7 linked regions of the Homo sapiens genome follow. The protein of the gene in region 2 purifies or fractionates together with the protein of the main gene of each other region. This does not show direct contact. Each region holds a gene or a part of one and is shown on either strand. Other genes may lie near its edges. The genes, in order: ILKAP, SNRNP27, SAR1B, NAA15, ETF1, EIF2A and TOMM34.

Evidence for each region.
Region 1: the proteins of SNRNP27 (region 2) and ILKAP purify together in Homo sapiens (affinity purification with mass spectrometry; 2 studies listed by BioGRID and IntAct, with this or other methods). This does not show direct contact.
Region 3: the proteins of SNRNP27 (region 2) and SAR1B purify together in Homo sapiens (affinity purification with mass spectrometry; 2 studies listed by BioGRID and IntAct, with this or other methods). This does not show direct contact.
Region 4: the proteins of SNRNP27 (region 2) and NAA15 purify together in Homo sapiens (affinity purification with mass spectrometry; 2 studies listed by BioGRID and IntAct, with this or other methods). This does not show direct contact.
Region 5: the proteins of SNRNP27 (region 2) and ETF1 purify together in Homo sapiens (affinity purification with mass spectrometry; 2 studies listed by BioGRID and IntAct, with this or other methods). This does not show direct contact.
Region 6: the proteins of SNRNP27 (region 2) and EIF2A purify together in Homo sapiens (affinity purification with mass spectrometry; 2 studies listed by BioGRID and IntAct, with this or other methods). This does not show direct contact.
Region 7: the proteins of SNRNP27 (region 2) and TOMM34 purify together in Homo sapiens (affinity purification with mass spectrometry; 2 studies listed by BioGRID and IntAct, with this or other methods). This does not show direct contact.

Annotation. Positions count from the first base shown.
Region 1 is NC_000002.12:238,186,696-238,190,195, forward strand, and holds part of ILKAP (integrin-linked kinase-associated serine/threonine phosphatase 2C), read right to left. Parts: intron 3,278-3,500; coding exon 3,158-3,277; intron 1,563-3,157; coding exon 1,436-1,562; intron 1-1,435. UniProt on the Homo sapiens protein: Protein phosphatase that may play a role in regulation of cell cycle progression via dephosphorylation of its substrates whose appropriate phosphorylation states might be crucial for cell proliferation.
Region 2 is NC_000002.12:69,900,456-69,903,955, reverse strand, and holds part of SNRNP27 (U4/U6.U5 small nuclear ribonucleoprotein 27 kDa protein), read right to left. Parts: intron 776-3,500; coding exon 711-775; intron 1-710. UniProt on the Homo sapiens protein: May play a role in mRNA splicing.
Region 3 is NC_000005.10:134,612,329-134,615,828, forward strand, and holds part of SAR1B (small COPII coat GTPase SAR1B), read right to left. Parts: intron 705-3,500; exon of another isoform or gene 686-704; intron 429-685; coding exon 363-428; intron 1-362. UniProt on the Homo sapiens protein: Small GTPase that cycles between an active GTP-bound and an inactive GDP-bound state and mainly functions in vesicle-mediated endoplasmic reticulum (ER) to Golgi transport.
Region 4 is NC_000004.12:139,388,505-139,391,884, reverse strand, and holds the end of NAA15 (N-alpha-acetyltransferase 15, NatA auxiliary subunit), read right to left. Parts: 3' UTR 501-3,380; downstream 1-500. UniProt on the Homo sapiens protein: Auxillary subunit of N-terminal acetyltransferase complexes which display alpha (N-terminal) acetyltransferase (NAT) activity. The NAT activity may be important for vascular, hematopoietic and neuronal growth and development.
Region 5 is NC_000005.10:138,533,237-138,536,736, reverse strand, and holds part of ETF1 (eukaryotic peptide chain release factor subunit 1), read left to right. Parts: intron 1-3,500. UniProt on the Homo sapiens protein: Component of the eRF1-eRF3-GTP ternary complex, a ternary complex that mediates translation termination in response to the termination codons. The eRF1-eRF3-GTP complex binds to a stop codon in the ribosomal A-site.
Region 6 is NC_000003.12:150,549,787-150,553,286, reverse strand, and holds part of EIF2A (eukaryotic translation initiation factor 2A), read right to left. Parts: intron 932-3,500; coding exon 862-931; intron 1-861. UniProt on the Homo sapiens protein: Functions in the early steps of protein synthesis of a small number of specific mRNAs. Acts by directing the binding of methionyl-tRNAi to 40S ribosomal subunits.
Region 7 is NC_000020.11:44,943,398-44,946,897, reverse strand, and holds part of TOMM34 (mitochondrial import receptor subunit TOM34), read left to right. Parts: intron 1-3,318; coding exon 3,319-3,445; exon of another isoform or gene 3,446-3,446; intron 3,447-3,500. UniProt on the Homo sapiens protein: Plays a role in the import of cytosolically synthesized preproteins into mitochondria. Binds the mature portion of precursor proteins. Interacts with cellular components, and possesses weak ATPase activity.

The sequences.
Region 1 (3,500 bases), about 170 Mb from region 2:
AACTATTTCAAGGAAAAAAAAAAAACAAAAATGCCCACGAGAAATGACATTTATTCTAGAGAGCTGCTTTTCTTTCAAGTTTTTTGGAATTCCTTTTCAATTTAGGACATCCTGAGCCATGAGAAAAAAAACCTCATCTGGTTTATAACTCAGAGCTGTTCTTACTGCCTGTTATTTGCAAGGCATGATGTAGTGTTCCCAATTAAATTTACACTCAATGGATCTGCCTTCTTGGGCTCCAGAGGTCCCTTTCCTGGTTTTAATGCAAATCCCAGGCTGGGTATGGTGGCTCATGCGAGTAATCCTGGCACTTTGGGAGACCAAGGTGGGAAGATGGCTTGAGCCCAGGACTCTGAGACAAGCCTGAGCAACTTAAGGAGACACTGTCTCTACAAAAAATTCAAAAAATTAGCCGGCTGTGGTGGCACATGCCTATGGTCCCAGCTACTCAGGACGCTGAGGTGGGAGGACTGCTTGAGCCTAGGAGGTCAAGCCTGCAATGAACTATGATTGTGCCACTGTACTCCAGCCTGAGCAAGACAGCAAGACCCTGTCTCAATGGGTGTGTATCTCGTCCCCTCTACATATGATCAGCTGCTCTGCAGCAGCCATCACCTCATCTCCATGAGCAGACCTCATCTACTGGACAAACGCCATCAGCCCAAACGGCTCCAGCACACTGTATGTTAATGACCAACTGGTGTCAGTAAAGGTACGTAATGTATTTATTATGTAATTCTGAATTATGTAACCTATGTAATATGTACTATAATGTATGTTTACAGCCAACTTAATGTCCTACCTTCTGGTTTTTTTCCAGGCCCAAGAGCTTATCCAGAAGGCTTCATTTTAGTTTGTATAGTTGCAGCTAATTTTTCATTGTCTGTCTTTTCCTTGACATCATTTTGACTTTTGTTCTTCCTGGGCCCTGATTATCTGTACTAGCTCTGCTTGATCACCATTCATACTTTAATTAGTGGCTTCCAACTCTTATCTTCTAGGTCATGGATTAAAAATATTCTCTGCCAGAAGCCGCTCAGTTGCTGGTAAGGAGTAACACACGCTGCAGAGCCATGCTATGAAGCGTCATCTCCCGCTCAGCAGGGCTGCTCAACCGCGACACTACTGACATTCCAGGCTGAACAATTCTTTGTTGTGGGGCTGCCCTGTGCTTCTAAGATGTTTACCAGCATCCCTAGTCTCTACCCACCAGATGCCAGTAACAACTCCCTCCCGCAGTTGTGACAAAAATGTACCCAAACACTGACAAATGTCCCCTGGGCGGGGAGCAAAATCAACCCCAGCTGAGAATCACTGATGTACAATCAAGTGATGTGTTAGATTTTCTAGTAAATACAAACTAGCCAGTCCAAAATGCCAGTCAGAACCCAGGAGATGTTAATGCCAGCCGGGCTTCCTACCACATGAGACTCACATGAGGGACGATGGGGGCCTACACTCCTCGGTGATGTCGTTCAGGATGACGTGGGCATCCTGCATCTCCTCCCTCTCACCCTTCCGCTCAGCCACATAGCCCTTCAGACCAAAGATCACCGAAGAGGCTAAGGAAAAGAGAACAAAAGAGCCAATACAAAACTGTGCCCAACCCTCTGGAAACCCTAGTCCCAGAGCAAATGAGAGGGAACTATGACTGTCTGACTCAGCAATATCCTAATGGCGCAAACAAATAAGCAATACCCCTTAAGGCATCTCCCCCAGCTGCAAGTCTATAACTCAAATCGGAGCACTGTTGGACAGGGTGAGCTCTAAGAGGTTGCACAGGGACACAAAAGAGGAGTCAGTGAGCACAAAACAACTCTGTCTAGGGTGTAAGTCAAAGCATCAGGGCAAGGGATGTGCTGCCATCCCAGAGAAGTGAGATTCAAATCAGGCAAAAGGATCATGTGCAAATTAGTCTTGTGATAATTGAATAAGGACAAATGCAAGTCAGGAGAGTTTATCTCAAAAGCCCTTAAGATGCCCTGAAAATATGTATTTCCATGCTCAAGGCTGGTGAAGAATTTGAACAAACAGTAAGATCAGCTGCTTTTACTTCAACTGAGGAAGAAAAGGATAAAAGATTCCAATGCAGGCAGAGATCTATTTACATTTAATGGTTAGACTCATTTAAGCTTATTTTCTGATACCTAATGCCAGACAAATAATAAAATGAACACTGTGAAGAGCTGTCTTCTGGGAAGTGACAAGCTAAGTTGAAGATGACATCTTCCCAGCAAAGCTACAAGTGGGTTTTTTCACATACCTCTGCCTGCATCATACAGCTTTCACTGAGGTAATCTGTGACAAAGGACAATGCAGTCAATGAAAATCCCACAGCTCGGGCCAGGCACGGTTGCTCACGCCTGTAATCCCAGCACTCTGGGAAGCCGAGGCGGGCAGATCACAAAGTCAGGAGATCGAGAGCATCCTGGCTAACATGGTGAAACCCCGTCTCTACTAAAAATACAAAAAACTAGCCAGGCGTGGTGGCAGGCGTCTGTAGTCCCAGCTACTCGGGAGGCTGAGGTAGAATGGTATGAACCCGGGAGGCGGAGCTTGCAGTGAGCCGAGATGGTGCCACTCCAGCCTGGGCGACAGAGCGAGACTCTGTCTCAAAAAAAAGAGAAAAAAAGAAAATCCCACAGCTCAAGAATACTTTAGTACCACAACTGAAGTATTCTCTTTAGTTAATACTTTTCGTTTTCTTCCTCACTAACTTTGACAAGTTACACAACTGACTACAAATTTCAACGGCTTTTTCCAGGCTTAGGGAAGCTGCCTACTAAGCTAAATCACGTAATTCAAAGCACTAATTGACAAACTGCAAACAAAGATTGGAAGTCAGAGAGAGACTAGGTGGTCAAAAAACTAACCATTCACTGCAGAAGGCTAAGAAAAAAACCACCTGTATTTTTTAACTCTTGAGGAACAAATGTAGGTTTCCTATCTGATCAAAGGTAGGATCAGAGATAGATGTACATGAAAAGTAGGAGAAAGCACAGAGAAACTTGGAAATTCATTTGCAAAAAGGGAACCCTACTTATTTCTTAAATACAGACATAAAAAGAAAGTATTATTAGAAAGCTGAAACTGGTTTTGCTCTGGGTTGTTTTAAAATATGAAGTCTAATACATTTGTTTTCAAATTGTCTGAAAACCTTTACAAACTTTCTTTTCCACAAGCTCTTCACTGCCATTCTTCTCTTCCTCGGAGGTTTTTCTCTTTGCTCCTTTCCCTTCAGTCTTTACCATCTGGGATATTGATGTGGCAAGAGAACCTGGAAATAAAGTAAAAGCCAGACAGAAACACAGCTGTAGACTGTTGGAAAAAGTCACTAGTAGACTGGGCTTCATCCTAGCACTCAAAGACAAGGTCATTTGAAGCAAGGACTGGCAGACACAGGCAGACCCAGGAGTTGTGTCTTCATGGTTGGCGGGGAGGGGGAGGGGGGTCCCACAGTGAGAGAACATAAAGTTAAGATCCAGGCCCTGAGTCAAACT
Region 2 (3,500 bases):
TAACACGAAACATATAATTTAGAAATAGAAAAGAGTTCCAAAACAGGCACCCATTGAGCAAATTCAATTGCACACTGTAATGATTCTCCCCCTAAGACCTTATTTGAAGGTAATTTTACAAAAGACTGTCCAAGATGATTCTAGTACCTTAGCTTATAGCATTTTCAATCACATGATTCATAATCTAAATTAACTGGACTATTAATCTTTTATCAGCGACAAAGTTAGAGAGAAAGGCAATGTTTGAAAATATCTTGACTTTTTCATTCATTAAGAATTCAGTGAGATTTCATGTATGGATTGGTTCGCTCCAAAACTGTGGTACAAATAAAATATGCCTATACTTAACAGAAGAATATATTTACAGTTGAAATCCTTACATAATCAATCTAGTTTAGGAGGGATCTATCTTATACCTAAATTATAATGAAATCAAAGCCCATAGACTTGAAATTATGCTTTTCTGAGGAAATTACTATCTATAGTCCTAAAATATTTAAGCCAACTACCCTCTCTCTAATAGCTATTAGCTTACATGTAAATGGGAAAACAATTTTAACACACCAGAATATAAGCAATGAATATTTCATTCAAACAAGGAACAGTATGGAAAACTGCTACATTTCCTACAAACATGATTATCTCATAATAAAGTTTGAAGTAAAAAACTGATTTATTAGTTCAAACATAATAATGGGGGCTATGCATACCTGTACTTCCTCTTCTGAGAGACATTTATGGCATAGGCATTTACAGAGCCATCCACCTTCTTACCCTGAAGAAAAACAATAAACAAACAGACAAAAAACAGGAAGGATACATTAAATCAGGATACATGAAAGCAGGTGTGGTGGCAGTGGCATGTACCTGTACTCCCAGCTACTTGGCGGAAGGCTAAGGTGGGAGGATTGCTTGAGCCCAGGAGTTTGGGACTGCAAGTAGCCATAATCACACCAATGCACTCCAGCCTGGGCAACTGAGCATGATCCAGTCTCAAAAAAAAAAAAAAAAAAAAAAGAAGAAGAAGAAAGGAGGAGAAAGGAAGAAGGAGGAAGGAAGAGGGAAGTAGGGGAGAAGCGGGGGCCGAGGGGGAGGAGGAGAAGGAGAAGCAGCAGAAGAAGCGGCAGCGGCAGCAGCGGAAGGGGAAGAAGCAGAAGAAAAGCAGAAGAAGAAAAGAAGCAGAAGCAGCAGTAGCAGAATAAACAGAAGCAGCAGCAGCAGAAGAAACTGAAACAGCAGCAGCAGAAGCAGAAGAAGAAGCAAGAGCAGCAGAAGGAGCAGCAGAAGGAGCAGCAGAAGAAGCAGAAGCAAAAGAAGCAAGAGCAGCAGCAGCACAAGCAGCAGAAGAAGCAGAAACACAAGCAGCAGAAGCAGAAGAAGCAAAAGCAGCAGAAGGAGCAGCAGAAGCAGCAGAAGCAGAAGCAGAAGCTAGAGCAGCAGCAGCACAAGCAGCAGCAGCAGCAGAGGAAACAGAAACAGCAGCAGCAGAAGCCGAAGAAGAAGCAAGAGCAGCAGAAGGAGCAGCAGAAGAAGCAGACGCAGAAGCAGAACCAGAAGAAGCAGGAGCAGCAGCAGGAGAAGCAGCACAAACAGAAGCAGCAGCAAGAGCAGCAGCAGCAGCAGCGGAAGTAGAGGAAGGAGGAGGAGGAGGAAGAAGGAGGAGGAAGGAGGAAGGAGGAGGAGGAAGGAGAAGAAAGAAGGAAGGAGGAAGGAGAAGAAAGAAGGGAGGAGGAAGGAGGGAGGAGGAAGGAGGAAGGAGGAAGGAGGAGAGTCCAATGAGGCAGAGATAATTTCCAGATCCTATGAGCTCCCAAGTGGTATAACTCTCTGCTCACATTTTTACAATCGTGTATAAGCAATTAATATTCAAACCAACAAACATTCACAGTGTATGTACTATGTGCAAAGCATGCTGAGAAAGTAGGGTAGCAGAATCTAATCTTTTCTGGTCAAAGAATACCTTGAAACCAGATAAAAGGTATAATCTCCAGAAAAACTCACATTCACACAAAATTTAACTTACAACCTTAGCTAATAATATTCTCATATCATGGCTGGAATGGTTGCCATTCATCTAAATCCCATTTCTTGTACAACCCTTGCAATTTTTTGTTCATTTTAAAAATTATTATTTTTTAGACACAGGGCCTCACTGTCGCCAGGTTGGAGTGCAGTGGCGTGATCATAGCTCACTGCAGCCTCAAACTCCTGGGCTCAAGTGATCTTCCTGCCTCAGCCTCCCGAGTAGCTGGGACTACAGGCACATGCCACCAAGCTGGGCTAATTTTTAATTTTTTTTTTCTGTAGAGATGGGATCTCACTATGTTGCCCAGGCTGGTCTTGAACTCCTGGTCTCAAGCAATTCTGCTGTGTTGGTCTTCCAAAGTGCTGGAATCCCAGGCATGAGCCGTTGTGCCCAGCCCAATTTTGATCTTTAAATCAAGAATCAGAACAGAATAACAGACACAAATGCTAGGTTGTTATGTGTTACTCCATCTTGACCTTTCTGAATGTAGCACCCATCCTCTTTTTCACAAATTCTTGTTCAGGTCTTCTGATCAGCCAAGTCAACTCAACATACCCACTTTCCCCCATGTTGTTCCTCATGCCTGAATTGCCTTCCCTGCCTCCAACTTGAACTATCTGGTTATTACCCATTGTTCAAGGCCCAATTCAAACATTCCAGGTGCCAGGAAGTGCCCTCTTCTCTAACTGCTGAAAAATGTTAACTGTGCCTTCCTCACAGTACCCTCTATTTCTTTCTTTCTTTCTTTTTTTTTTTTGAAATGGAGACTTGCTCTGCCACTAGGCTAGAGTGCAGTGGCGCAATCTCGGCTCACTGCAACCTCCGCCTGTCGGGTTTAAGTGATTCTCCTGCCTCAGCCTATCGAATAGCTGGGACTACAGGCATGCACCACTACGCCCAGCTAATTTTTGTATTTTTAGTAGACATGGGGTTTCATCATGTTGGCCAGGATGGTCTTGACCTCTTGACCTCGTGATCCCCCGCCTCGGCCTCCCAAAGTGCTGGGATTACAGGCATGAGCCACTGCACCCAGCCCAGTACCCTCTATTTTCTACCCTATAAAACCATGATGTACATCATAAAGTTATTTTCCCTATGAGACTGCAAGCTTCTTGATGGAGGGATATGTCTGAGAGTCACCTTTGCATTCTCACATCCTAGGTCACTGCACTCCCAGATATTCAGAAAATGACTTAGATGAGTATCATCAGCTAACGTCGTGACACATACAAGTGACCCCCACCTCCTCCCTCTCCCATTACTACTTATGCAAGATTAGCCTATCTGTGTAGTGTACTTAATTAGATATTGGTGTCAGGGCAAAGACCGATTCTGACCCACTGGCCAAAAGGCATACACAGACGAACAGTATATTTGAAGTGGGGCTAAAATAAATGTATTTGGTCTTACTTTTCTATTCCTATTTTCATGTATTTTTTTGGAGGTGGAAGGTAAGTCCTGAACAAATTACTTG
Region 3 (3,500 bases), on a different chromosome or scaffold from region 2:
CCCTAAATTTTAAATCTACTCTGGCCTTGCGTGACTAGAATGAGATTTCATGCACTAGAACTAATGGCCACATTTTTGTTAAGTTAAAATAAAACAAAGTGACTGTAAGAGTAAGAGAATCTTACCTTGAACGTGGCGAAATCCCATCTCTACTAAGAATACAAAAATCAGCTGGGCGCGGTGGCACATGCCTGTAATCCCAGCTATTGGGGAGGCTGAGGCATGAGGATTGCTTGAACCCAGGAGGCAGAGGTTGCAGTGAGCTGAGATTGCACCACTGCACTCCAGCCTGGGAGACAGAGTGAGCCTGTCTAAAAAAAAAAAAAAAAAAAAAAAAAAAAAAAAAAAAAAAAGAATCTTACCTTGAACATGTCCACCCAGATCAAAAGTTGTAAACGTCATGCCAGCAATGGTCAGTTCTTCGGAAGCTAAATAAGATTTTAAAATATTTTTACATGAAAATTAGAAACCCATTAATCGTGTAAAAAGTAAAGTAGAGGTTCCTTTTCAAAGACTTTCCTCCCCATCTAATTAAGAATAAATAGTAACTTCTCTTAGAAGCAAAATTGATTCAAAGACCCGTGCTAACATTCTTAAATATCTGCCAGCCGTAATAAAGAAATCAATGTACTTTATGTTCTTAGCTCCCACAATTTAGCCTAAATATTTGCCCTGGCATACTTACACTGGTCCAAGCAAGCATTAGGTCATAGCCTGTTCCTCTTCCTTATTTGAAGGTGTTTTTACCTTTCTCAGCATTCCACAAGTTACTTCCTCCTTCCTTTGTTCTCCTCTGCCTTTGCCTCTTTTAAAAAGTTCTAAGTTGCTAGCCAATCAGGACAAATACAGAATGTGAGGTCCCATTCCAGCCAATGGAAACCGGACACAGCAGTAGGGTGGACGCATCAGATTATAAATGACCCTGTCTCCTTTGTTCGGTGTACTCTTGTGGCAAAACTGCTGGCAAGTGTACCCTTTCTGCAGAAAGTAAAAATGGCCTTGCTGAGGAAATTAAATTTATGTTCAAGTGCTATCCTTTACAGCACCAGGGAACAAGCATTTCTAACAATAGCTTATATTTACTACTTAATGTTTGATTTACTTTTATTGCAAATAAGGTCAAATCAAACATTTACAAACTGGTACAATAATACTTTTTTGTAATTAGATATACACCAATTCATACTGACAATATAACAAATAATTGTAATATTCAGTTCTAGTATTCTACTCACCACAAATCCAACATTTATTTTTCCTTCTCTATTCTTCCTGCTGAAAATGTTAATCTCTTCAGACAATTATTTGCTATGAATTCAAATAACTGCTCCAATCTAATAATTGTTCATATAATTCATCTTAAATGATACAGGTGAAATAATTTTCTCTTATGGCTGACATAAGACAGTCTTTAATTACAAAAACAATTACCATAAAAAATTGTGGCCATTATTTCCATAACTATCTTTCTTTCTCCTCCCTTCCACTTCTGGGACTTCAGTTGCAGGTTTGTTAGACTGCCTGATGTTGTCTCACCAGTCATTGAGGCTCTGTTTATTTTGCTTTCAGTCACTTTTCTCTCTGTGCTTCATTCTGGAGTTTCTGTTGCATTGAGTTAAGTTTAGTGGTCTTTCTTTCTGCAGTACTGGCACTATCTAATTTACTATTAATCCTATCCAGTGAAATTTCCATTTCAGGCTGGGCATGGTAGCTCACACCTGTAAGCCCAGACTTTGGGAGGCCAAGGTGGGAGAATCACTTGAGCCCAGGAGTTCGAGACCAGCCTGGGCAACCCAGGGAGACCCTGTCTCTATTAAAAAAAAGAAAGAAAGAAAAAAAAGAAATTTTCATTTCAAATACTGTATTTTTCATTTCTAGAAGTTTCATTTGATTCTGTGTTATATCTTCCATTTCTTTCCTCATGTTTGTGTTTTCCTTTAAATCCCTGAGCACATTCATAACGATTGTCTTATGTCTTAATCTGCTAATTCCATCATCTTTGTCACACTTGTGTCTGTTTCTACTGACTGAATCACTTTCCTGTTTCTTTGCATGTCTAGTAATTTCATATTGAGTGCTGGATTTTGTTGTAGTCTTTTGAAGAAGGTTGAATTTTGTTCTGACAGTTCACTTGCTTACAGATCAGTTTTTAACATTTGTTAGAAGGCTAAATGGGATTAAACAACAATTCCTGGCCCCATGAGAGCTCTAGTAATTATTTGGCTAACAGCATTCTTACAATTGTTCTTTGACTAGCCTTTTGGAGCTTTACCCATTGCATGCACAGATTGGTATTCAGCTATGTAAATTTCTAGAGTCCTTTCTCTCCAGAGGTCCCTCCTCTCCGGTACTCCCTCCTCTCTGTCCTAGCAAAAAAATTCTAGTCCTGTTGGCCTTTCCAAATTCTGGTCTACATCTCCTCAACTCAGCAAGACTATTGGACTATGTTTGGGTGTCCTCTCTTTGCACCATGGTCTGAAAATTACCTCTTGGCATAAAACCAAAATAGAGTTGTTTCCTTTCTCTCAGGAATCACAGTCCTGTGGTAGCTGTTGCCCAATGTCTGAAAACAGTTGTAGCATCTTTTTTTGTCCGGTTTTCTAGTTGTGTACAGTGGGAGGGTAATTCCAGAACCAGTACTCACTTATGGCCAAAAGCACAAGTGCCCCATAATGACAACATAAGTTTTAGTGTAGCTACTTTAGCCCAGAGTTTTTATCTTCTTAAGAAATTCTGGGGGCCGGGCGCGGTGGCTCACGCCTGTAATCCCAGCACTTTGGGAGGCCGAGATGGGCAGATCACGAGGTCAGGAGATCGAGACCATCCTGGCTAACGAGGTGAAACCCCGTCTCTACTAAAAATACAAAAAATTAGCTGGGTGCAGCGGCAGGTGCCTGAAATCCCAGCTACCAGGGAGGCTGAGGCAGGAGAATCGCTTGAACCCTGGCGGCAGAGGTTGCAATGAGCCGAGATTGCCCCACTGCACTCCAGCCTGGGGAACAGAGCGAGACTCCATCTCAAAAAAAAAAAAAAAAAATTACCCAGGCATGGTGGCAGGTGCCTGTAATCCCAGCTACTCAGGAGGCTGAGGCAGGAGAATCACTTGAACCCAGGAGGCGGAGGTTGCAGTGAGCCGAGATTGCGCCATTGCACTCCAGCCTGGGCAACAGAGAGAGATTCTGTCTGAAAATAAGAAGAAATTCTGGGCCGGGGGCGGTGGCTCACGCCTGTAATCCCAGCACTTTGGGAGGCTGAGGCGGGTGGGTCACGAGGTCAGGAGATCGAGACCATCCTGGCTAACACGGTGAAACCCCGTCTCTACTAAAAAAATACAAAAAATTAGCTGGGCGTGGTGGCAGGCGCCTGTAGTCCCAGCTACTCAGGAGGCTGAGGCAGGAGAATGGCATGAACGCGGGAGGCGGAGCTTGCAGTGAGCCGAGATTGCACCACTGCACTCTAGCCTGGGCGACAGAGCAAGACTCCGTCTCAAAAAATAACAA
Region 4 (3,380 bases), on a different chromosome or scaffold from region 2:
CTCTATAACAAAACAGCAACAACAAAAGAGGAGGTGTGTCCTGATGGAGGCAGCAGGTTTGAATATAGTATATAACCAAGACAGTACATAAAAGATACTCTTCTGATTTATTAAAACAGCATTATTGGCTGGGTGCGGTGGCTCACACCTGTAATTCCAGCACCTTGGGAGGCCGAGGTGGGCGGATCACCTCAGGTCGGGAGTTAGAGACCAGCCTGATCAACATGGAGAAACCTCGTCTCTACTAAAAATACAAAATTAGCCGGACGTGGTGACGCATGCCTGTAGCCCCAGCTACCCAGGAGGCTGAGGTTGCGGTGAGCCGAGATCGCGCCATTGCACTCCAGCCTGGGCAGCAAGAGCAAAACTCCGTCTCAAAAACAAAACAAAACAAAAAACACCAGCATTATTTTCTCCAGAACCTCCTGTACATTACCAATATTTTAATTTCAACAACGATCTCAGATTGCATACTAAAAGGTAAAAGTGCAATTCAGTAATCTTTTCCAAAAATGTTTTATTGCTACAGGTTGAAATTTTTCAACCATCAAAATTAGAACAAAATTTAAGTTTCTGCTCACTATGGTGTAACACAGCCATTTCGTGGGACTTTGTTTTTAATGTAGGTTGGCAGTAGAGTTCAGCAAAGTTTAGATGATAGCAGAATGGTATCATGAAACTTTGTTTATAACTTAAAGAAGTGGGGCATTAGCTAGAATAGAAAGACCGCCTTCTATTTGAAAGGTCAGTCTTTCTTTGAAATCTCAAAGATTCATTTCAAAATTTAAGGCTTTAATTATCTGACACAAGTATATACCTATCTTGCAACAAAGTCCAATATTTTACATTACAGCTTTTCCCAAATACTATACATGGTAACTGAAATATTCTTAGAAATCATACAAGACTTCCCTGAACTTACCACAACCTACCTGAATCTGGACCACACTTTTTTTGATCTCTTCATAAAGTCACAGCTTTCATTTCACAGCTCTAATAGCAATACACCATGGAGTACAAACAACACTGTGAAAAACAAGGGCCTGATAAAGCCCACAGCAAAGCTATTCACTAATATTGGCATTACCTTTAGCCATGCTATTAGAGATCACACTTTATTTTTGTGCATAATAAATACGATACAGAAAAATGTTGAAAATATATGACTCAACTATCTAATTAAAGCTGAGTAAACTAACCTAGTCAGATTTTAGTTTTTCAACGAGAAATGACAAGAGTAGCTGAATATAAAGAAAAACAAAAAGAACTTTACTTTCCTATGTTAATACAGGTCAAGAGACCCTTTCTTCTCAAAAGGGTTGGTAACACCAGTTCTTAGCAATAAACATAAGGCACTTGTTTAGATTACAACATCACTCCATTTTTTCCACTTGTTTTTCTAACCCTGTTTTTCCCCCACAGTATCATTTGAAATTAATAGGATGAATGAGGCAAATATGAGACGATCCAGTTGATACTACTCAGAGCAAGATAGTACAGTACAGTGTTTCAGGGGTGATGTCTGGACATAAAATGAACCCAGTCAAGGTCCTCTGACACCAATGTATCCACTATCAAGTAAACCTGAAAGAAAATAAAAGATTTATTCAATAGTTCCAGTAAAATTGGGTTGGAATACAATACACATTAGGAATTTAGCTCCTCACGGGTGGCATCTGCATCTTAAGAGTTCTGAGTACTTATGAATATTCATTCTAAGACAATCTACATCATTTGAACATTGTCAAGACAAATAAATGAATTTCATTTCAATATACAGTAGAGTTTAAACAAAATTCACACATACACCCCCTATTATATGGCTGGTACCTCCTCCAAACACCTCATTAGTGGCAGAGGTAGGACTAGTGTTCTTTCCCAACAATAAGAACTTCAGTTGCCACTCATAGGAGTTGAAAAAAAGTTTTTGTTTTTTTGCCATCTGTTAAGATGTTCCTGAGACAGGGCCAGTTAATAAAACATAACAAAGCACTGGAGTTCGGTTTGTACTTCTCTTTACATCACTACTAAACTGTTAGACTGAGATGTGGAATGCAGGTCATGTACTATGAAAAGTTGATTGTAGCACAACTGTTCAATCAGTAAAAGGTCTTCGGCAAATTCCCTTTAGAGTATACTTTCTATAAACTACATGTTCCACAAAAAGGTCAATTATATATACAATTGATTTGTTTTACTTAATCTTATTTGCTCAGATCTTGCAAATGCAATGAGAATATTAAGCCTGAGGCTAGTTCTCAGTGTATAGGTTTAACAAATTAAGGCTCATTTTCCCAAATCAAAATAGTTTTTAGTTTTCCTTTTAAATTATGAATTACATTCATAGTACCTGCCACCAGCCTTGCCCTCAATGAAATCTTAATGCAGGAGCAGCATTCTACTTCATTATGGAATTTCCCTGACACCAGCACTTAGCCCCTTCTAAAAAGCTCCCATCTGCACTAGCCTTACAGCATATTACATTGCCTCTGGCTTGCACCTCTGTTTCCACCTGTGTATTTCACAGAAGCCCAACACAGATTAGTTGAAATATTCACACAACTGTTTTTCAAAACAATTTATTGCATCATATTTGGTACCTTATGTTTGACAACAAAAAGGAAATTACATCTGTAACTGCAAGAAAAAGAAGCTGGTCTGTTATTTGAAAAAAAAAAAAAAAAAAAAAATCTTGGGCCCTTTAAAAATTACAAAGTCTTGGGCTTGCCTGAAACAACTGAGCAAGAAATATATTCTTAGAAATGTAGGGCTTCAAGTATTACAAACCTGTGACACTGTGGAAAAATTCCAGAGGTATCTAAACTGCAGCACTTTTTTTTCTGCATATCGTGAACAAGGCCTGCTGAGGTTTTTAACTATTAGTCTTTTGATCAGTCATAGAATGGTAGTCAGGAGTTCTGCTCTTTAACTTCAAGCCATGGTAGATTTTCCTTTTTTCACTCTTGGGTGAAAAATTCATGCTTGCTAATTAGTTGGTGCCACATCACAGTGCATTTGGTTCTTGCATTACAGTTTTAACAAGTTTGGCCAAACAATGCTGAAAGGTTTGCATTGTTGTTTTAGTTCTTCAAGTTTTAGTTAAAATTGAGACTGTTACAACTGGTTCCTTCAGTTAAAAACTGTGGTACAAGAACACCAAACTGATCATGTACAGTGAATTTTGGAAACACAAGCGTATTGAACACCTTATAGGTTTCTTATAATTTTGCTTGGTATCTATATGTCCCAGTTTCTACAACATCAAGCATCTGTTGTAGGTTTCTCTGTAAATAGTGATTCACATTGCATACTTCCTATGGTCAGAATCAACCCCGTAACAAAATCAGTCAGATGCTAAAGCCCCAACAACTCTTTGTGCT
Region 5 (3,500 bases), on a different chromosome or scaffold from region 2:
TCTTCGATCCTATTTGAAGAGTAGGAAGGAGAAATTTGCCTTCCCACTGCTGGATCTGTTCAACTAAGAGGCTGGACAGTAGAAATTACTTCTCAGTCCAGCCTATTCTCTAGGGCTCTCAGAATAGAACCTTCTCCTAGGATACATTCTGTAGGTGTCTTTTAATTCTTCAGCAGCCTACTATCTTAGTGAGGGGGAGAAGGAATTAGGAAGGTTCAGGCTTTTTTTCCCCGGCAGGTTAGAAATTGAGAGTCTGAGGTTTCTCACTGGGTACTGTCCTCAGAGAGTATGATGAAGCTCCCTCTGATACGGTTTTATCTTATGCCATTTGACACACATCCTTGCCCACTCTCTTTACTCTTCTCACAATCCTTTCAGGTTCAGAGGACTTGACATTTTCAGGTGCCTGGCAACTGGTTCTTATCATACAGATAGCTCTGCATGTTGAGTTTGTACTCTTGTTTTCACATTTTCATTTGTTCTTCTAAGATCTCCTTTAGAAGAATGATCATAGTCAAAATAAAAGGTTCTTTTTGTTTTCCTGCTGTGTCTGTGACCTTATAAACTAGATTTTCCTCCAAAATACACATCTGGGTATATGAATATGAAGCCAGAAATGCACTTTTACTATTAACCAGTAAGCTAATGGGCTTCACCAAACATCTGCTGTGAGTTGGGCACTAGACATTTTGGAAGAAATATGTAATAAAATGAAAACATGATCTGCCACACAACCATGGAATGATAATATAAACCATTTTCAACTCCATATTAGTGAGTACAGAATAACACAGTACATGTTGAAGGGGATTTAGTATAAGCAGATGATTAAGGTCTTTTTTTTTTTTTTTTTTTTTTTTTTGAGGCGGAGTCTCGCTTTCCCGCCCAGGCTTGAGTGCAGTGGTGCGATCTCAGCTTACTGCAACCTCCACCTCCCAGGTTCAGCTCAGCCTCCCGAGTAGCTGGGATTACAGGTGTGTCCCACCAAGCCTGGCTAATTTTTTCTTTTTTTTTTTTTGAGACGGTCTTGCTCTCTTGCCCAGGCTGGAGTGCAGTGGCGTGATCTCAGCTCACTGCAACCTCCACCTCCCAGGTTCAAGCGATTCTCCTGCCTCAGCCTCCCAAGTATCTGAGATTACAGGCACCCGCCACCACAGCCGGCTAATTTTTGCATTTTTTAGTAGAGACAGAGTTTTGCCATGTTGGCAAAGCTGGTCTCGAACTCCTGACCTCAGGTGATCCGCCCGCCTCGGCCTCCCAAAGTGCTGGGATTACAGGCGTGAGCCACCGCGCCTGGCCGAAATTCATCTTTTATTAAAAGGAGGTTGCAGTGAGCCGAGATCGTGCCACTGCACTCCAGCCTGGGCAACATAGCCAGTCTCTGTCTCAAAAAAAAAAGCCAATTATTCATCCATGGGCTTCAGTTTCCCCATCTGCTTCATGGGGGAACTAATGCTTTCTTCTTCTTCTTTAAAAAAGGTAACATTGGCTGGGTATGGTTGCTCATGCCTGTAATCCCAGTACTTTGGGAGGTCTAGGCAGGTAGATCACTGAGGTAAGGAGTTCAAGACCAGCCTGGCCAACATGGTGAAAACCTGTCTCTACTAAAAATAAAAAAATTAGTTGGGTGTGTTGGCACATGCCTGTAATCCCAGCTACTCGGGAGGCTGAGGCAAGAGAATCGCTTGAACCCAAGAGGCGGAAGTTGCAGTGAGCCAATACCAGCCTGGGCTATAGAGGGAGACTCTGTCTCAAAAAAAAAAAAAAAAAAGAAACTAGTTTTCTGAGGATGAGTAAGCATACATTTGACCCCCCCCCTTATAACCTTATAACAGCTCTGTGAGGAAAGCTATTATTGCCATTTCATGGATGAAGAAATTAAAGTACATACAGGGAGTAAATAGCTGCCTAATATCACAGCCTTTAGTAAGGGTCAGTGCCAGATTCTGTACTCACTTTTCTGATTTCAAAGCCTGTGGTGCTAATTTGTACAACACTACCTTGCCCTTTGGCAAGTATTTCTTTTGCTGAATAGAGACGTCTCCCATTCCCTTCTGAAAGGAAGACTCTTGTCCATGGAGATTTGTAATTTAGTAGGAGGAGCAGGTGTGCTGAGACTCAGGTGCAAAGATTTAAAAGAAAACAGACATGCTATTTCCACCCTAGGAAGAACTTGGATACTGAACATGTTTATTCTTGACGAGCATCAGTGGAGAGAGAAATAACTTGTTGCAAAATCCCTCCCCAGGAGCTCATTCGTATATTAGAAAGATCTAAGTAGTGAAGTAATGAATCCCGAACACTGGTTGTGATTGCAGTCTCTTGCTTTGCACTGTTGTAAGAACACTAGAGAAATTTTCCAGCTTCAAAGCTGCTTCCTGGTGGAATATTCCACTGGGTTTGTGAAGATCTTTTAATTTTTCTTTTTAAGACTAATAATGCCTATCATTGTAGAAAAAGTGTACACACTCTACCAGATGTGTACATTTTTGTTTTAGATGACTGAGTAAATCTTTGTTCTCTGGGGGACAGAAAGCTAAAATGAACCTTTGTGAACTTTATTCTGAAAATGTTTGGACATCTGAGTTATTCTGTACCCTAGGGTGGAGGTTGCTGTAATGTCTCAGTAAGTTCCGGTCTTGGTATTTCTCCCATTTGGTAATAGCATCTGACTCTAAGGTCAATTGCATAAACTAATTTCAGGTAACTTTCCTAGTCCCTTTGAAGGGTAACAGAATCATCCCTCCTAATTTGATAGTCTAACTAAACCTTTTATAAAAGGCAGCCCCATCCACCTCCTAACATGCCTCATAGATGGTAGTAGCAGAGGGAGTGGGGTGGCATTAATGTGAGGATCAACAAAATTAAAATGACACTTCATAAGGGTTGGTTTTGTTTAGTGCTGGTTTTCTTAAGGTAAACGCCTAATATAGTATGATGGTTTGAACTTTTAGGTGCAGTGAAAGATGGGGACAGTTAGTCAATTTAAGGCACATTAGTTCCTCTCCAAGGACTGACAATTTGTTGTTGGTTTTTGTTTTGTTTTGTTTTTGAGGTGGAGTCTTGCTCTGTCTCCAGGCTGGAGTGCAGTGGTGCGATCTTGGCTCACCGCAACCACTGCCTCCCAGGTTTAAGCGATTCTTCTGCCTCAGACTCCCAAGTAACTGGTACTACAGGTGCGTGCCACCACATCCAGCTAAGTTTTGTATTTTTAGTAGAGACAGGGTTTCACCATGTTGGCCAGGATGGTCTCGATCTCTTGACCTCGTGATCCGCCTGCCTCGGCCTCTCAAAGTGCTGGGATTACAGGCGTGAGCCACTGTGCCCGGCCAGATTTTTTTATTGGTATTTTATTTGGTAGTTTAGAATAAATCTCTGGTGTTTGCTTAAAAAAGAGTATATAGAGATGATGGTAGGAATTGGCCATTTATTCATTTTTCAAATGTTTGAGCACCACTATGTGCTAAAATGATTTTTGCCCTCAGGATGCTTATATACAC
Region 6 (3,500 bases), on a different chromosome or scaffold from region 2:
CAATGCCCTGATTTTGGCTCACTGCAACCTCCACCTCCGGGTTTCAAGCGATTCTGCTGCATCAGCCTCCCGAGTAGAGTAGCTGGGATTACAGGCGCCTGCCCCCACACCCGGCTAATTTTTGTATTTTTAGCCGAGATGGGGTTTTGCCATGTTGGCCAGGCTGGTCTTGAACTCCTGACCTCAGGTGATCTGGCCTGCCTTGGCCTCCCATAGTGCTGGGATTACAGGCGTGAGCCACCGGGCCCAGCTTTTAATTTAATTTTTAAATTTAAAACAATTATATGGTCCAAAGTCAAAACTATACCAAAGCTCTTTCACAGATGTGTCCCCTGCATCCTGTAACTCTCTCCCCCGCATTCTGTAACTCTCTCCCCCTATAGATAAGCATTTTTAACTAGTTTTTGGTTTACTTGTCCATTGTTTCTTTGGGGAAAAAAAAATTAATCTAGCTAGCTATATACTATGTGCATATATATGTCCTCCCTTTTTAATATCTTTTTCATTATGATTTCACTAAGATTACTGGCCATGATTTGGCTATCAAATTTGCAAGTTTTTCTCATTCCTTAAGATACAACTCTTGTAAAATAAAGGCTTGTATTCAATTACACTAGTGTCTACACTTTTTCTTAGTATTGTTCCCCCTACCTTATAAATAGGCTTAAGTTACTATTTTCAGATCTGAAGATCATTTTCCTTGATAGAGAATATGTATTCTTTTCATCTTCGGTAAATATTATACAATAAAAATGAGTTCATCTGTTCTTTTCCTTTCTTGTTCAAAATACACCACCAACAAAACCATTTTAGATTGTACTGTATGTTCCCTATAACATTACTTAACAAAATAAATCATACCTTGGAAACACTGTGCTTTCTGTAAAATGTGGTGGTCCATTCACCATGTACAGTCCTTCTGATCCTCGGACTAAAGAAGTAAAATAAAAAGAACCACAATTACTTTGTTAATAAAGACTCAGTTAACACAAATGTGTTTTTTAAAAAAGCAGCTTTAGTCAAAATATTAATGAAATCATTAAATATTTCATTGAACTATAGAATATTAGCAACAAAAGGGCATATTTTCTTACTCTGTTACATAAAATCATATAATTGCTGAGAAATACGTAACTTTTTAAATAAAACTCGAAACTTTGTCACCACTGAAAGAAAGGCAGCTGTCTTGTGGTAAAGAGGACATGAATTCAGAGCCTGACCTAAGTTTATAACTGCCTGTGGAACCTTGGATACGTTACCACCTCTGAATCTGTGACCTAATCTGTAAAATGGAAATATCAGAACACAGGATAGCTGTATGCTTTATATAAAGTAATAAAAAAAGTATATGTTTAAAGTTTTTAGAAATATAAGGCAATATTAATATATTCACAATTTATCAAACTAAGAGAACAAGTGGAATGAGACATATTCATTTATTAAGGCCCCAATGACAGTAATAGCCTAAAAAATTAAGTGGAAACAAAGTTCAAGATTAAATAATCATCTACAGAACTAGACTATACTTCTTATTTCTATGTTTAAATTTATTTATTTTTTTGAGACAGGGTCTTGCTGTCACCCAGGCTGGAGTACAGTGGCATGATCAAGGCTCACTGCAACTTCAAACTCCTGGACTTAAGTGATGCTCCTGGCTCAGTTTCCCAAGTAGCTGGGACTACAGGCATGTGCCACCCTGCTTGGCTATTTTTTTTTTTTGTAGAGACAGAGTCTCACTGTTGCCCAGGCTGATCTCTAACTCCTGGGCTAAGGCAATCCTCCCTCCTCAGCCTCACAAAGTGCTGAGATTACAGGTGTGAGCCACCGCACCTAGCCTAGACTATACTTTTTTAAATGGTTGAATTAAATGCTTCTAAAGCTGAACCAAATAAATAGATTCATTTAGTCAACAAATGCTTAGTGGGAAAAAAACGAACAAACTACCTCCTAGGCCCTGTGTTGAACATTGGCGAAATAATAGGAAAGAAAATCAGCCTTGTCTCTGACCTCATTGAACTTTGCAAACAGTAATCAAATAATTGGCCAAATATACGGAATCATATACCTGTGTTTAGTCCTTCAAAGGAAAGGTATATGGTACCACTGAGGGTATAAAAGAGAGTTTTAACCTAAAAATGGAAGGTTAGGGAAAGCATCCTTAAGTGTTTTGTATACTGAGATGTAAAGGATCAATGGCAGTTAACAAGCAAGGAGAACAGTTAACAAGTGCAAAAACCCCATGGAAAGAAAAACGACAGAGCGTCAAGGGGATGGAAAGAAGGCCTGTGTGGCTAGAGGATGATGAAGCTGGAAAACAAAATAGGGCTCAGGCTAGGCGTGGTGGCTCACACCTGTAATCCCAGTACTTTGGGAGGCCGAGGCAGGCAGATGGCTTGAGCCCAGGAATTCAAGACCAGCCTGGGCAACATAGGGAGATGCTGTCTCTACAAAAATTAGCTGGGCACGGTGGCACATGCCTGTAGTCCCAGCTATTCGCACGGCTGAGGCAGGAGGATCACCTGGACTTGGGAAGTCAAGGCCACAGTGAACCATGATCATGTCACCCACCACCAAGCCATGTTAAGTTTTATATTTCTTGTAGAGACGAGGTTTCACTACATTGCCTAGGCTGGTCTTAAACTCCTCAGCTCAAGCAATCCAATCTGCTTCCCTCAGCCTTCCAAAGTGCTGGGATTACAGCTGTAAGCCACCTGGCCCAAACTGACATTTTGTACTTCTAAGATGCCTTGCTAGATTTAATTAGTTTTTCTATTAAATAAATTTAATAAAAGCATATACAGTTTAATTTACTCCTGATAAGCTGTGATACAAAGTTTATTAGAAAAAAACACAAAATCAGGTCCATAACAGAACATAAACTGTTTTAAACTAATAAAAGCAAAAATAAATAGGGACTAAAAAACTTCTCAATACTGAAACAATTTTTTTCTACATGTAACTTTCTAACAAGGAATCCTTTTTAGTTACAAGTATCTGTGAAACTAAATACAATGCGTAGTTAGCTTAATATAGTGTATTCTGAGTTTGTGTGATTCCCTGTTTTTAGTGATTTCCCTCTTCAATCAAATGGGATTGGCAATATGTTCTAGCAGAAAGAAAAATCTAGAATGCAAGCAGTTCTTTTAAGACAACAAATAAACGCCAGTTTCACACAGTAGCTGTGTGAAATACATTAAACATCTACATAATCTTTTCCAAGCTTACTAGCCTTTTTAGACATTCATATACTATTTATTGCTCTAGGCCTGAGTTAGAGAGAGAAAAACACAGGGCTTCAATAAACAAGGATCCCATGGCAGGGGTGTAGTCATCTTTAAAATACGATACTTTTCCCAACTCTTACATTCACTGAACTATGTATTAGTTTAGGAAAATCACTCAATTTTGAATAAATTATCTCTGTGACTTCAACTGGTCAAGCAGATTAGACAATGTGAATTTCACGTAATGGACATTGCTGTTTTATGTGCCTAGCAACC
Region 7 (3,500 bases), on a different chromosome or scaffold from region 2:
AAGCTTCGGATCATTTTGGCAAATTCCAAAAAATGTCTTGTTGGACAGCTTTTGGTTGTGATTGCATTGGATTTATAATTTAATCTAGAGGACTAATGACAAAACAACTTTCAGCCATTGTGGCTAACATTTTATCATGTCCTGGAACGTCTTGGACATAGTCTAATGCTCCACCTCATGTACGCCCATCTGAATGACACAATGCCCAGGCTTTGGCTTACTTTGGCTCCCTTTGTGCAGGTGACATCTGAGTGCATAGCACCTACAACTTGCCAGCCCTGAAACAGCTGTCATAAGAATCTCACTTGTACTCACAACAGTTCTTCAGCTTAGATCATTGTCCTGTGTTACCTAATCAGGCTCAGAAAGATGAATTAGTGACCACAAAGTTAAACAACTAGTACATGGTGGCTGAGATTTAAGCCAGATCTTTGTGACTCCAAAGCTTATTTCCCTTTCACTCACTTGTGTTATTTCCCAACCCCTTTGTAATTAAAACCCTTCTGACTGGATACAGTTACTTCATTTACCAAAAGTCAAGGGGGTTTATTTTATTGCCTGAAGTTATGCATTTTGTTCATCTTAAATATAGTCTTTAGAAGTCTCACATGACCCTATTAATCACATTTCTATTCTGAAGTCACGATACACGGTGGTTCCTCTGCTTCCCAGACACTTGGCTATTTCTTTAAATTGCCAAGCCCATTGGGAGGAAACTTTAATTTCCTTAGAATTCCTCTATGTTTAGAGGTGGCTCATGCCTGTAATCCCAGCACTTTGGGAGGCTGAGGTGGGCAGATTGCTTGAGGTTAGGAGTTTGAGACCAGGCTGGCCAACATGGTGAAACCCCATCTCTACCAAAAAATACAAAAGTTAGCTGGGCATGGTGGCATGCACCTGTAATCCCAGCTACTCGGGAGGCTGAAGTAGGAGAATCGCTTGAACCCAGGAGGCGGAGGTTGCAGTGAGCTGTTATCATGCCACTGCACTCCAGCCTGGGTGACAGAGTGAGACCCTGTCTCCAAAAAAAAAAAGGAATTCTTCTGTGTTCAAAGTTTAAAACGGGCTACTATTCTAAAACTTGGTGATTTACAACAACCATTTTATTTTGCTTGTAATTTGTGGAGTCAGGAATTAGGGAAGGGCAGTTCTCATTTGGGGTCTCTCATGCAGGGTCAGCAAGATGGTAGCTGGGGCTGGAATCCTCTAAAGCCTTCTTCCTCGAATGTCTGGCAGCTGGGCTGCCTGACTCAAATGGCTGGGTGATGGAACTGCTAGAGCAAGCTGGCACCTCTTTCCACTTTCTTAGCAGCCTTTTCATGTGTGCTGCTGTGAGCTTCCTGAGAGCGTGGTGGCCTCAGAGTAGTTGGCTTCTTCCCTGTCAGTTCAAGGCTCCAAGAGCGAGTGTTTCCAGAGACCAAGGTGGAAGCTGCAAGGCCTATTATGACCTAACCTTGGAAGTCACATCGTGTCCCTTCCTCTGTCCTCTGTTGGTCAGAGCAGTCACAGAGCCTGCCCGAATTCAAAGAGAGAGAGCAGATACACCTCCGCCTCTCAGTGGAGGATTGCCAAAGAATTTGTGCCTGTCTTTTAAGTTGTTACAAGAAGATTTTTCTCTCCGTTAATTTATGAATTCCATGCAATCACAAAGGACTAGTAGAATTTTCTTCTTTAAATTCATGATAAGTCAGAAAAAAATGAGAACAACGACATGAGAGAATCTGGTGTATAATAAAGTCTGGGGCAAAGAGAGATTATTTAATAAGAGGTGTTGGGTTGGCCAGGTTAGAGTTAAACTTGAATCCTACCTTGCTTCTTATTTTAAAGTAAGTTCTGAGTGGATCACAGTTTGGAATGTAAAAAGCGAAACCATTAAGTTCTAGAAGAACACATGGATTAACTATCTTGCAGTGGGGAAGGTATTCTTATGTGAAGGGAAAAAAATGTTACAGAAGTCGTTAAAGGAAAAGTTAGAGAAGTTTGATTTCAAAAGATTAAAAACCCTTATTAAAGATGTTCAGCTTTACCCACAACTAAGCAGCTAAGGCAGTGAGATAGTGTTTTATTCCATATTGGCATACATGAAAATTTAAGACCCAAAGTTGGTACAGTTGTAGGAAAATAGGCTCTGTCAATAACTATTCAGCTTTTTTGGAAAGCATTTTGGCAGTAACAATCAGATTTTATTTCTTTTTTTGTTTTGTTTTGTTTAAGAGATGGGGTCTCCCTATGTTGCCCAGGCTGGTCTCAAACTCCTGGGCTCAAGTGACCTTCCCACCTTGGCCTCCCAAAGTGCTGGGATTATAAGCATGAGCCACTGCACCTGGCCAGTCAGGTTTTAAAATGCATGTATCTTTGGATACAGCAGTCCCTTGCACAAGGATGTTCATCATGGCATCACTTATTTACAAACTGGAAACAATGAAAAATACCTCTTGATAGGAAATTGGTAAAATAAATTATGCTACATCCAACTTAGTGAATACCCTGCACCCACTGAAAACAGTGAGGTGGAACAGATGAACTTATGTAATGAGCGCCCAGACATCTGACTGTTTTGTTTTTAGTGACTGTCTTTGGAGAGAAGGACTAGATCTGAATGAGGAAGATATATACACACATGCACTTTTTTGAACCCACAGATGCAGAATATATTGTATGGATGCACATAACTTTTTTCCAACATTTTATTATGAAAATGTTCAAAATATAGGAAAGTTGAAAGATTTGTACATTGAACACCCATAGACCTACCATCTAAATTCTACAATTAGTATTATTACATTGCCTTATCACTATTTAGCCATCTGTTGGTCTGTATTATTGTGTTTGATGCACTTAAAAGTAAATTGCAAACGTCTTTACATTTCACCCCATGTCAGCATTATATCATTAGAGTTCAGTAGTTGTTGGGTTTTTTTTTCCCCCTTAAAGTAGATAATTTTTTAATCTGTCAAGGGAAAAGTTTCAGGAAACCTTTTCTTTGCTTGAAAGAGCTCAGTATAGGAGAGCGCAGTACAGCATGATAGAACTAGATGAGATCAGGATCTGGAGTCCCATGAACGAACGCCCGCCTATTTGAATCCTGGGTCTGCCCCTTAATACTGGCGGTACCTGGCCCAAGTTCCTTTACCCTTCTGAGCCAGCATGTTTCATCCATGAAAAGGGCTAGGATTGTTGTGAGGATTTAAGAAGACATAAAGTAACCAGCACAGAGTAGGTGTTCAGCAAATTGGAGATCACTTCTCAAACTACTGCGTGGCATGTGGGTGGCCCATAAGACGTGACTGAAACCTCTGAAATGGTCTTTCCCTTCAGAGCACTCTGCTATTTGGTCCTGAAGCAGTACACAGAAGCAGTGAAGGACTGCACAGAAGCCCTCAAGCTGGATGGAAAGAACGTGAAGGCATTCTACAGACGGGCTCAAGCCCACAAAGCACTCAAGGTAAAAAAAAATCCTGGCCAAAAGGTCCCAACATAGCTACAGAGATTTATGCCAG